Regions from separate parts of the Homo sapiens genome. Here region 2 is linked to region 1. Evidence: fine-mapped expression QTL. A gene starts in region 1. The other region holds a variant in brackets. All regions are shown on one strand. Distances are from middle to middle. Region 1 holds the start of PIGK (phosphatidylinositol glycan anchor biosynthesis class K). Region 2 overlaps PIGK (phosphatidylinositol glycan anchor biosynthesis class K).

The links. PIP is the estimated chance that this variant, and not a neighbour inherited with it, causes the effect.
Region 2: its variant is the best candidate, but not a certain one, in a credible set for the expression of PIGK in whole blood (TOPMed, PIP 0.57).

The regions. Positions count from the first base shown.
Region 1 is chr1:77,216,317-77,221,316 of GRCh38, reverse strand. It overlaps PIGK (phosphatidylinositol glycan anchor biosynthesis class K), which reads left to right and starts at 1,887. Exons shown (of 11, transcript NM_005482.3): 1 at 1,887-2,007. The coding sequence starts at 1,915. LOC105378808 (a long non-coding RNA gene) reads right to left here and starts at 1,797. Exons shown (of 3, transcript XR_001738109.2): 1 at 1,664-1,797; 2 at 324-529. RefSeq lists an enhancer at 2,094-2,203.
Region 2 is chr1:77,085,484-77,091,000 of GRCh38, reverse strand. PIGK (phosphatidylinositol glycan anchor biosynthesis class K) reads left to right here. Exons shown (of 11, transcript NM_005482.3): 11 at 1-2,012. Among named protein-coding and RNA genes, the nearest start is that of MIR7156, 28 kb to the right of the region's middle. The variant C/T (reference allele first, on the strand shown) is at 3,225.

The DNA of each region.
Region 1 (5,000 bases):
TTTATAAAGGGTAGTTCCTCTGCACATGCTCTCTCACCTGCTGCCATGTAAGATGTGCCTTTGCTCCTTCTTCATCTTCTACCATGATTGTGAGGCTTCCCCAGCCATGTGGAACTGTGAGTCCACTAAGCCTTTTTCTTTAGAAATTATGCAGTCTTGGGTATTTCTTCATAGCAGTATGAAAATGGGTTAATACAAGTAAAGTCTCATCAAAGTGTGGGTATGAAGTTACATCTGGTCATGAATTTGAGGCATAATCATTAATCTTGTCAGACATTATCTTATGTACAGGAAGAGGCAAGGGCTAGGATCACCAAACTTACCTTTTGTAAAAATTCAGTGATTCAGGCAAGAGATGTGCAAACCTATTCCCTATCCTGCTTATGGTCTTCAAGGCATTCTTCCACAAGGCTGCTCACAGTCAATGAGTCAGGGGCTTTGTGAAATATTGCTGGCAAAGGAGCAGAATGAGCAAATGGCTTCTTATCTTTGCTACTTTGTTTCATAATCATCAGCATCCAATAGATATCTGTTGAATTAATGAATACATGGAAGATATTCTGGCAGTGTATTTACTTTCTAGGATTCACGTAACGGAAAACCTAAATTTGACTAAATAGCATGAAACCTCTCACAAAGTGCAATAGCAAAAGAAACAAATAAAAGGAAAAGAGAGACAAGAGAATGGGAAAAGCAATAGCATAAAATATGGCAAAGGCTAATGTTACTTATTTATAAATATATTATTCAAATTCATATGCAAAACATAAATATATAAACAAAGAATTTACATCAGAGGACACAGAGATAGTTTAGAAACACAAGAAAGACATCAGATCTTGATAGTAACCAAAGAATTATAAGTATAGTTACCTAGGGGTAACATTTCATACCAAAGAATTTAAAGGAAAAAAAATGGTATGGTTTGGTGTTGTGTATTCTGATAGTGCTGTAAGCTTGTTCATTTTGGAAAGCAACATCATTTATAGTTATTAAAATGTTTTGGAATATTTTGACCCCAAATTCCTAGTTCAGGAAAATTATACAAACAAAATAATTCAACAGATTTAAAAAGCCAAACACACAAAAGATACTCTTTACAATATTATTTTCATAGTAAAACTTAAAAACTTTGCATTGTGCAGCAGAGGGACAATTACTTTGGCTGAGGCATCAATAATGGATGGAATTTTATCTCACCATTAAATGTTAAAATTGTGAGGAAGCAGCGTGGAAACGTTTATGTCATACTAGATGAAATGCATAAATTAAAACTGAACTCACATAATAAAGAGAATGGTGGACCATACATATACACCAGCTGTGTCTCTTCCAGATAGGCTTTAGTTCCATAATTACAGAAGATACTCAAGAAACAAAAACGTAACTAGCTTCCCATGTTAATCCTTTCACCAGGTAGTAGACCCCAAGCCTCTAAATTGCAGCGCCCACCCACATTTTCCATTTATAGTTTATCCAATTAATCATCTTTTTGTGCCAAAACGCTTGTTCTTCCCACCACATCCAGCTTCATATTTTCAAAGAATTGGCAGCACTCGGCAAAATAAATAAATAAATAAATAAATAAATAAATAAAATAAATAAGGGAACAGAGAAATAAGTTTTTAAAGTTTAAGGAGTTACGGGTTTTCCCTCCACTCACCTTTCAATTTTTTTTCTTAAATGTTATACCTATTTTACAACCTCCAAACTGAAAATGCAGTTAAAAATAAAAAGGTCAATATCCTGCGTCTACCTTGTCCCGGACTCTCGAGCTCCACAAAACCGCAGAGTTCTAAAGCCGGACCAGAGGGCCACCTCGAAGAGGCGCGGATGGTGTCGCAAAAACCCGCAGCGCTACTTTACGGCACTGCCTCCGCCCCTTCAGGTGCGGGAAGTCTGAAGCCGGTAAACATGGCCGTCACCGACAGCCTCAGCCGGGCTGCGACTGTCTTGGCAACTGTGTTGCTCTTGTCCTTCGGCAGCGTGGCCGCTAGTCATATCGAGGTAGGAGTCAGGCTCATTTGACCACAGCCGGGAGGCCGGCTGTGAGCCCTCCAGCAGATGTCCGATACACAGTAGCTGAGGGACGCCTCCTGGAGTCAATCAGCCCCTGACCCAGGCTGGGTTTGAGGAGGGTATCACTGGGCACGGGTTAGGACACTGTTGGTCTGTTTCAGCGTTTTAAAACGATGAATTGAAATAATCAAACCCTCGGAGACAGAGGAGGACCTGATCCTTTGCTCCTACATGTGTGCAGTTCTTAGGTGAAATACGAGCAAGAGGCTCGTGAAATGTCAGTGTGCAGCAACTGCTTTCCTACTACTCAACTGCAGCCCTCTGTTTTGATAGGAGTCAGACGGAACTGGAGAGATGAGGGCAATTTTAAGAATCCAGATAATAGAATTTAGTGATAATTAGAACATGGGATAAATATAAGTGTTTATTAAAACTCTCAAGTTTCTGGCTTAGGGGCAACACGTCTGGGTTAAGAAATGGAAGAGAAAAGGGGTGCTTAGTTTTATCCTGGGCTCCTCCAGCTTCCCATTTTTAAACGTGGACACAGGATGTTCTGGTGCTCTATAATGCTTTTACTATTCACCATACTCTGATGATTCCTCAGTCCCGGTCTACAATCTAGATGTCTGGTATCTTTTTCAGGCCTGCATATCCAGCTGACTAAGAATCCGGGATAGTCAGGAGACATTTGAAAATCCGTGTGCAAAGTTTTATCTTCTGCTTATCCTACCTCCTCTTAAAAAGACACTGAAAAACTAAGCACCCCTTTTCTCCTCCATTTCTCAACCAGATGTGCTGCTCCTAAGCTAGAAACCTGAGAGTCTTAATCTCTTTATCCCATATTCTAATTATCACTAAATTTTGTGATCTGAGTTCTTAAAATTGCCCTCACCTCTCCAGTTCCACTGACTTAATTCAGGCTGTGATCACTTCTTGTCTAGACTCTTGCGATTACTTTATCTTGTTTTCCATAGGCCTCCATACTCCCTGAGTTTGGTGCTAGATTCGTCTACACGAAATGTAAGCCTGATCAGGTTATTCTTCTGATGAAATCTTTTAAATATTTATTAATTGCATACAGAATAAAGTCTAAACGTTATGACCTGGTGCTTGCCTACTTTTCCAGTGTTCCATATTGGAACCTCTTCTCCCCACCACCTGGGCACCTTGAGCTTAGACCAGTGGACTCCAAACTTTTTGAATACACACCCTATCAGTTAAAAAAAGATATTGAGCATGAACTTCATATATATTTATGAATTACTGTTAATTTATATATTTGATGTTTATATAGCATAATTTTTAGAGAACATAAATATGAGTAAATAGAAGTTCTGTTTCCCTCCTTTATTCTAACTTTGACTGCTTCATCTTGGATACTATTACTGTTTTTTGTAGTTACATAATTGCTGTGCTTTTTCACATTACAATATTTTATACATTGTGTTTCCTCTGTTCATGTGCTAAGATACAGTAAAGGCATAACCTCTGTAGAACGTTTCCCTATCTCTTACCTTTGCCTTTACTCTTGTAATTTGTACACTTGATACAGCACTCATTTACTATAACCCGTGTATGGTTTGTACTGTTATTCCATCATATCTCACTTAGAGATAGGAGCAACAGTTTCCTAAATGTTTTGCCTTGAGTCGTTGTTTTTTCCTTTCAATCTGTTCTCCAAATTGAAGCCAGAGTAACTTTTAAAAATGCAGTTCCAATCATGTCACCCAGGGACCTTGATGTTGCTCAAAAGATCACCTTAATGTTGCTCTAAACTCTCCACCATGACCCACAAACAAAAACCCTGCATATTTTTTGGGCCCTGACTACACTTCAAATTTTTTCTTTCTCTTTCAAACTTCTAGTTAGGCTAACTTTCTTTCAGTTTCTCAAAACCTTTAAGCTTTTTCTCACATTAGAGCTGTCTCCCCTCTGTCTGGAATTGTATTTCCTCTTTTCTTCATCTTTTGGATTTTAACCCAACAGTCACTTCTTTAGGAAAACTTTCCTGACCAGGTCAGGTCCCTCTGTTGTACTCTTATTATATTGTGTGTCTTTCCTTATCTGTTAAATGTATATCTATCCAATTAGATAGTAACCTATTTGAAGGCAGTACTATGGCTATTTTTGCCCAGCATTGTATTTGGAGCACTCAGGGCAGTGACTGGCATGTTGCCCAATGAGTGTGATGAATTAATGAATGTAATAATTATAGTGTAATGTGTTTGCATGCTCCTCTTTATTGAACTCTGGATTCTTGAGAGAAAGCAGCATGCTTTTTAGTGATTTTTGTATCACTATATATTAATGGTATCTGGCACATAATAGGTGCTGCATTTACTGTATGTAGAATGAATAACTTTATAATGACTGTATTGTCTAGACAACCACAAAAAAGTTTTGCCATCTAAATTTTTTCACTAAGGTCTGAAAGAAGTAAGAACTTTGGAGGTGGAAGGCACATTAGAGACATGAGGATAGTCAAGTCTAAAGAGCTAAATGACTTACCGCAATTTCACAGCCAGTTGCGAGATAGGACCTAAATTTTAGCTTAGGTCTTTGAATTCCCAAATCAATGCTTAACCACTGTAGCACATTGCTTTCTTTAACATCCAGGCAGCTGTTGAGTTTGGAGGGGGAAAAATACACACACACACACCCCCCCACACACACATGCCACACACACACTTTTTGTTCAGGTTATTATTCTATATTTATCATGTCAATTTATCAGAAACAATGCTTAACAATAGACAACCCATTATAGTTTCATTTAATGTGAAATACTATGTTATTGCCTTGCTAAATTAAGGGTATTTTATCCTAGCCATAGTAATTTCAGAGATCAGTTTTTTCCATCTCTATTGGTAGTTAACGTAAGAATTAACTTGTATTACTACAGCAAATGATATTCTAATGAAAATTGATATTCTTGAGGGTTACATGTACACTCTAAAATCTGTTAATGATATTTCACAAAT
Region 2 (5,517 bases), 130 kb after region 1:
TTTGTTTTTCCTTTTGCACTTATAATATTACCTTTTAATTGCATGCAAGATTGTCATACTTTTCAAAAGGCAAAGGATTGACTGTGTTATCTCCCTAGTTAGAACAAATGATATTGAGGCTTTTTGCCAGCTCTGAATCTTTATTTTAATTGATCTTTTTATTGATGTGTTATATAAATGAGGAAGAAAAATTTTGTCTGATTATGTGAAGGATCTTTCTGTACATGAAAAGAAGGGAAAATAAACTTGCAATTGAATAGACTGATTATAGTAGCACTGAGACACAAAAAGATTGACCATGTTGCCCTCCAGACACTCATACAAGGTCGTGGACACCACGGTGAGGCGGAGCTATTTAGGGTGGTAAAGGAATTATGATTGTTCTTGAGCCAAAGTAATTTAGTTTGAATATAATGAAACATACCCTGTAAAGACTGCTAGAAAGTAAAAGGATTCGTCTTCAGAGGTTGTAGAAGGTGCCCTTCTTAGTTAAAACCAAACTGGGAAAAGTAATACTGGATAAAATATTCAGGATAAATTTTGCCTCAGCAGAATTTCAAAGGGCAGTTGTTCCTCTGTTTCATTATTGAATCTTCAGAATATAGTTAAAGCCAAAAGCTTAAAATATGTTAAATGTTTCACTTATAACCATAATCTTTTTACATAGAGCATACTCTGCCTTCATAATAACTAAATCCTCTGCATGTGGTAGATGAGTACGTTTAGGAAATATTGTCAGTGCAATTAAATGGCCTACACTTTAAACAGTATCATAAAAACAAATCCTTAAATATATTCTACTTGAGTCACAAAAGCTGAACAACAGAAAGGTGTTTTGTTTTTGCCTTTCTCACAGTGTTGTGGTGAGAATCAGATGAGATAGTATTTTGACTAAACACTTCTGAAATTGTAAATATATGGTGGCATTATTGTTCTTATGTCGGCTTAGGAGGATACCAAAGGGGAAGTTAATGGTCACAGTGCACTTATGTAGCTTTCTAAGCTACTCAATGTGATTCTTGTTCTCTTTGCTGTTCTTTTTCTCCTCCCCCATGGTGTCCTTCAGAGAGAAAAGGAATGTAGATAAATGAATCCCTGCAGATGTGTCCTGACATTTCAGGGAGGGACAGGGTATAATGATGCCATCCTGCAAAGGCAGCCTGTGTGAGAAAAAGAAATCAAATAATGTGGATTTTAAAATTACGAAAGACATTCATTTGCAGTTTATGAAAGGAAAATGTAGTTTGGATACAAAGCTGATTAAATTGGATCAAGAAATATTAGAATTAAATGCAAAAAATAATCCATGCATTTATGGTTTTGATTTTTATATATTCCCAGCTAGTTGAAAATGATGATTCCCACAAGAAGCATAACTCAGCTTGTTTCTGCTTACTGAGTATTTTCTACTATGGTATATATTGATAACATTTCTTCCATTATGTATGTTGTATACCAGAGTTACAGTTACTGTGGGAATCATAATTTGAAATTTTGACTCCTGTGTTTCTGGAATCTTTACAACAAATGTTGCATTAACATATAACTTTTTTCAGTTGACTTTACCAAAATTAAGCCCATCTTTAGTAGATACTGTTTTAACATGTGAAAGAAATACGTTATAAACATACCACAAGATATGGCTATAAAACAATGAGATCAGTATCCATTTTTGCTTTAAAGAATTGGCCTTATTGCTTCAGTGTCACATCTCATACTCAAGGGCATTTACTACAAAGAAAGAGTTCTCCAATATTGCTGTTCTGTTGCTGCCTGCCCTATTTACACATGTACCTGCTACTTAAATAGGAAAGCCTTTCAATTCATGGACAATACACCTTGGTGGTAACCAGGCTTTTATTTTTATTTTTTTTTCTTAGTGTAAAAACTGTACTGTTTTGGAAATGTGCTGTGAAATATTAGGTTTAACTGTGTAGATCCTAGAATAAGGGGATTTATATAGATGAAGTTGTAACCAAGAAACTGGTTATTAAAAATTTATTTACTCCAAACATGGAAAGGTGGCAGTGTCATTCTTGTGTCACCTGCACAGTTTGCAGTCTCAGAGACTTCAGAGGACTCTGAGATTTGCCTGCTGAGGTATACCCAGTCATAGGGTCTGCCAGGTGGGAATCACATGATACGACCCACGTTCAGTTTTCTCTCTTTTGACTATGGTAGTGCCAGCTTTGACTGTGCTAGAGTTTCAGGGACGGACATGAGCGAAACTTTCTTAGGGGGGGTCATTTAATAAGGTCATAAATGTAAAGCAAATTGGCTGGGCATGGTGGCTCATACCTGTAATCCCAGCACTTTGGGAGGCAGAGGCGGGTGGATCATGAGTTCAGGAGATTGAGACCATCCTGGCTAACACGGTGAAACCCCATCTCTACTGAAAATACAAAAAATTAGCCGGGCGAGGTGGCGGGTGCCTGTAGTCCCAGCTACTCGGGAGGCTGAGGCAGGAGAATGGCGTGAACCTCCGGGGGGCGGAGCCTGCAGTGAGCCGAGATTGCGCCACTGCACTCCAGCCTGGGCGACAGAGCGAGACTCCGTCTCAAAAAAAAAAAAAAAAAAAAAATGTAAAGCAAATCACACAATGTCTGACATATAGGAAAAGTCAATGTTTTGTTCTTTGCTGGGCAGGACTATCTTGCTTTTAACTTCCACTCAGGCCCAGGGTCTTGTCACTCTTTAGAGAACATTAGCTTTGCTATTCCTAGACTGTCCTTTTCCCATCTGTTTTCAGCAGGCATAAATTTTGGGTAACAGTTTCTTTCGATACTATCCAACGATTTTAATCCATAGACTCTCTTGCCTCCCTTTTCTAGATTTTTCTCCTATTTTAGGTAGATTGAGGCTTTTCTCATCTTCCCTCAGCCTTAGTGTTCCACTGTCTTCTTTTTTCATATTCAGTCCACTCTGTTGGGAACATACCTTTAACATGATTTAAGGGACAGTCTTTCCTCACCCTCAGGTTGCAGATGTCTGGATAATAATCTAGTACTGCAAAACAGTGAGCATTACATTTCCAAGAGAACATATCCCCTACTTTCCCTACCCTTTGTTAGAGCTTTTTTAGTTTCAAATGATAACAACCAAAGTAGAACAAATGTAGGCCAAGAGGGGAATTTGCCAGAAGAATATTAGGATATTTTGTATAATCTTTCAGAAGTGGGGTCAGGTCTGAGCCTCATCAGGCACTGGAGTATCACCTGGACTCA[C/T]TCTCTCTCTCTGTGTTCCCTTTATTCCTCCTGGAAACTGACTTTCTCACATGATGGATAGAACCTCATATCCCATGCTTCTACCACAAGAGAGAGGTAAATTACTGTCTTCCTTTAATTCCAGTTCTACAAGTCTTATGGAAGAATAGATTAACCTTATTGGCATCACAGGTTCACAGGCCAGAGGGCTAAGGTCTTGTAAGCCCATAAGGACCTCTGGTGGCATACCCCATTAGCACTCCTCCCAGAGAAGGATGGGATCACAGGAGCCAGGCAGTTACCCTTATTACTTTCTGCTAACTTGCTGTTCAATGGGTGGCTCATGGAGCTGCAGTATCCCCCCTGTAGCTTCCTAGAAATGCAGAATGTGATGCCCACCTCAGACCTACTGAATCAGAATCTGCATTTTAACAATATCCCGAGGAGTTTGTGTGCCCATAAAGTAGGAGAAGCACTGACCTACTACACCTTTCTAGACAAAATAGCTCAATTTTATCTCCTAAAAAGAGATTGTAAAAGAAGATCACAAACACTTGCGAAATAAGCAGCCATGGGTAGCATCTTTTATGGTTAATTGACTCTTTAGCATTATTCCTGACTTCTATTCAGACCTTGTAAGACTGTGTACCACTCTCATTCTCTTTCTTTCTGAGGCTTTTTCAAAATACACTAAATGCTTAAAACAAGCAGCTAATTAGCATTTATATGTGTAGTATCTTCAAATCCCTTGACACTCCTCTCATCAAGACATGGAGTCTAAACTCCCTGCCCCTTGAATATGGGCTGGCCTTAGTGACTTAATTCTAATAAATAGAGTGTTACCGAATACTACTGCATGACTTCAGAGATCATAAAAAGGATTATAACACCTGCCCAGCTCTTTTCTAGGACACTTGCTCTCGGAACCCAGCCACCATCCCCTGAGGAAGCCCAAGCCGCATGGAGAAGTCACATATGTGTATTGTGGAGGGCAGCCTCCCGGCTGAGGTCCCAGCCAGGAGCCAACATCACACTCCAGAGATGTGCAGGAAGGAGCCTCCAGATGTTCCCTGACTGCAACCACAGGAGAGACCCCCAAGTGAGAACCACTTAGTTATCCCCAGAACCATGAGAGAGAATAATTACAAAAGATTGTTATTTTACTCCATTAGTATAGAGTGGTTTGTTGTACAACAATTAGTTATTGAAACACTGTGTTAATGAGTTACACACTCTAGTAGATGCTTATGAGGGATACAAAAATCTAATTAATTAAAGAGTTACCAGTGGATTATAGAAAGGAAAAAAACTACATAGCAGAAAATGACGAGTGCTATGTAAGAGCTATAGGACAGGCACTTAAAGAGAAACTTCTGTTTTTAATTGCTATATAGATATATTATTAATCTTTTATTTACTATCAGTTGAAGAGGCAGAGCATACATCAAGGAGGAAGTAAAATTTGAGTCATGATTTATAGACAACCAGATTAGATTTCTCTATCTCTTGCCCCTCTCTATTTTCCACTATTGTTCTTTTCAAAATTGTGCATTTTCTTCAGTCTTCCTGCTCTACCAACTTAGTTCTTTCATCAAAAGGCTTTGCTTTGTAATCTGAAAATTAAACTGGGAGAAGGTAACCAGCTCAACTTCCTGCTCCACCTTCTACAAATTTGCCTTTATTTTCTCCCATCACACCCCTACCCCACTTCTTTGGGCTCAGATACTGAGGCAGAGATGCCTCTGCTTTGAGTTATTGATCCCATCCCATTTGGGAGCTTGTTTACTCATGTCTTCCTTCAATTTCTTTTTACATAGAAGAGCTTCCCCTTGAATTTTATAAGATGTGTAAGTTTTCCTCATTTTAAAAATTCCTCTCAAAATCCTGTGTCCTCTTCTGAGTGCTTTACAGAGCTCTCCTCTACTTAATTTCATAGCTTTTCTTTCGAAAGAGTGGGCTGCATTCACTTACTGGCTTCCCTGCCTTGCCTTCTCTTCATTGTAAACCCCCTTGTAATCTGGCTTTTGTTCCCACTACTCCCCTGAAATGATTTCCTTTACTGCTATCAGTGATGGAACTGCCAAATCCAATGGAAACTTTGAACTTTGCTAATTTGGAGGTCTTTGCCCCCAAGAGGGAGAATGCTTTCATCATGAGATACAACAATTTCACTGAATTTGAAGAGAACATTGCCACCTGGTCATTTGAGGCTGTTTATGTCACTAAACCAACAGGCCAAAAATAGGGAGTTGCTTCACTGGTTGGAGTGATTGATCTCAATTATCAAAGGGATATTGAGTTGCTGCTACACACT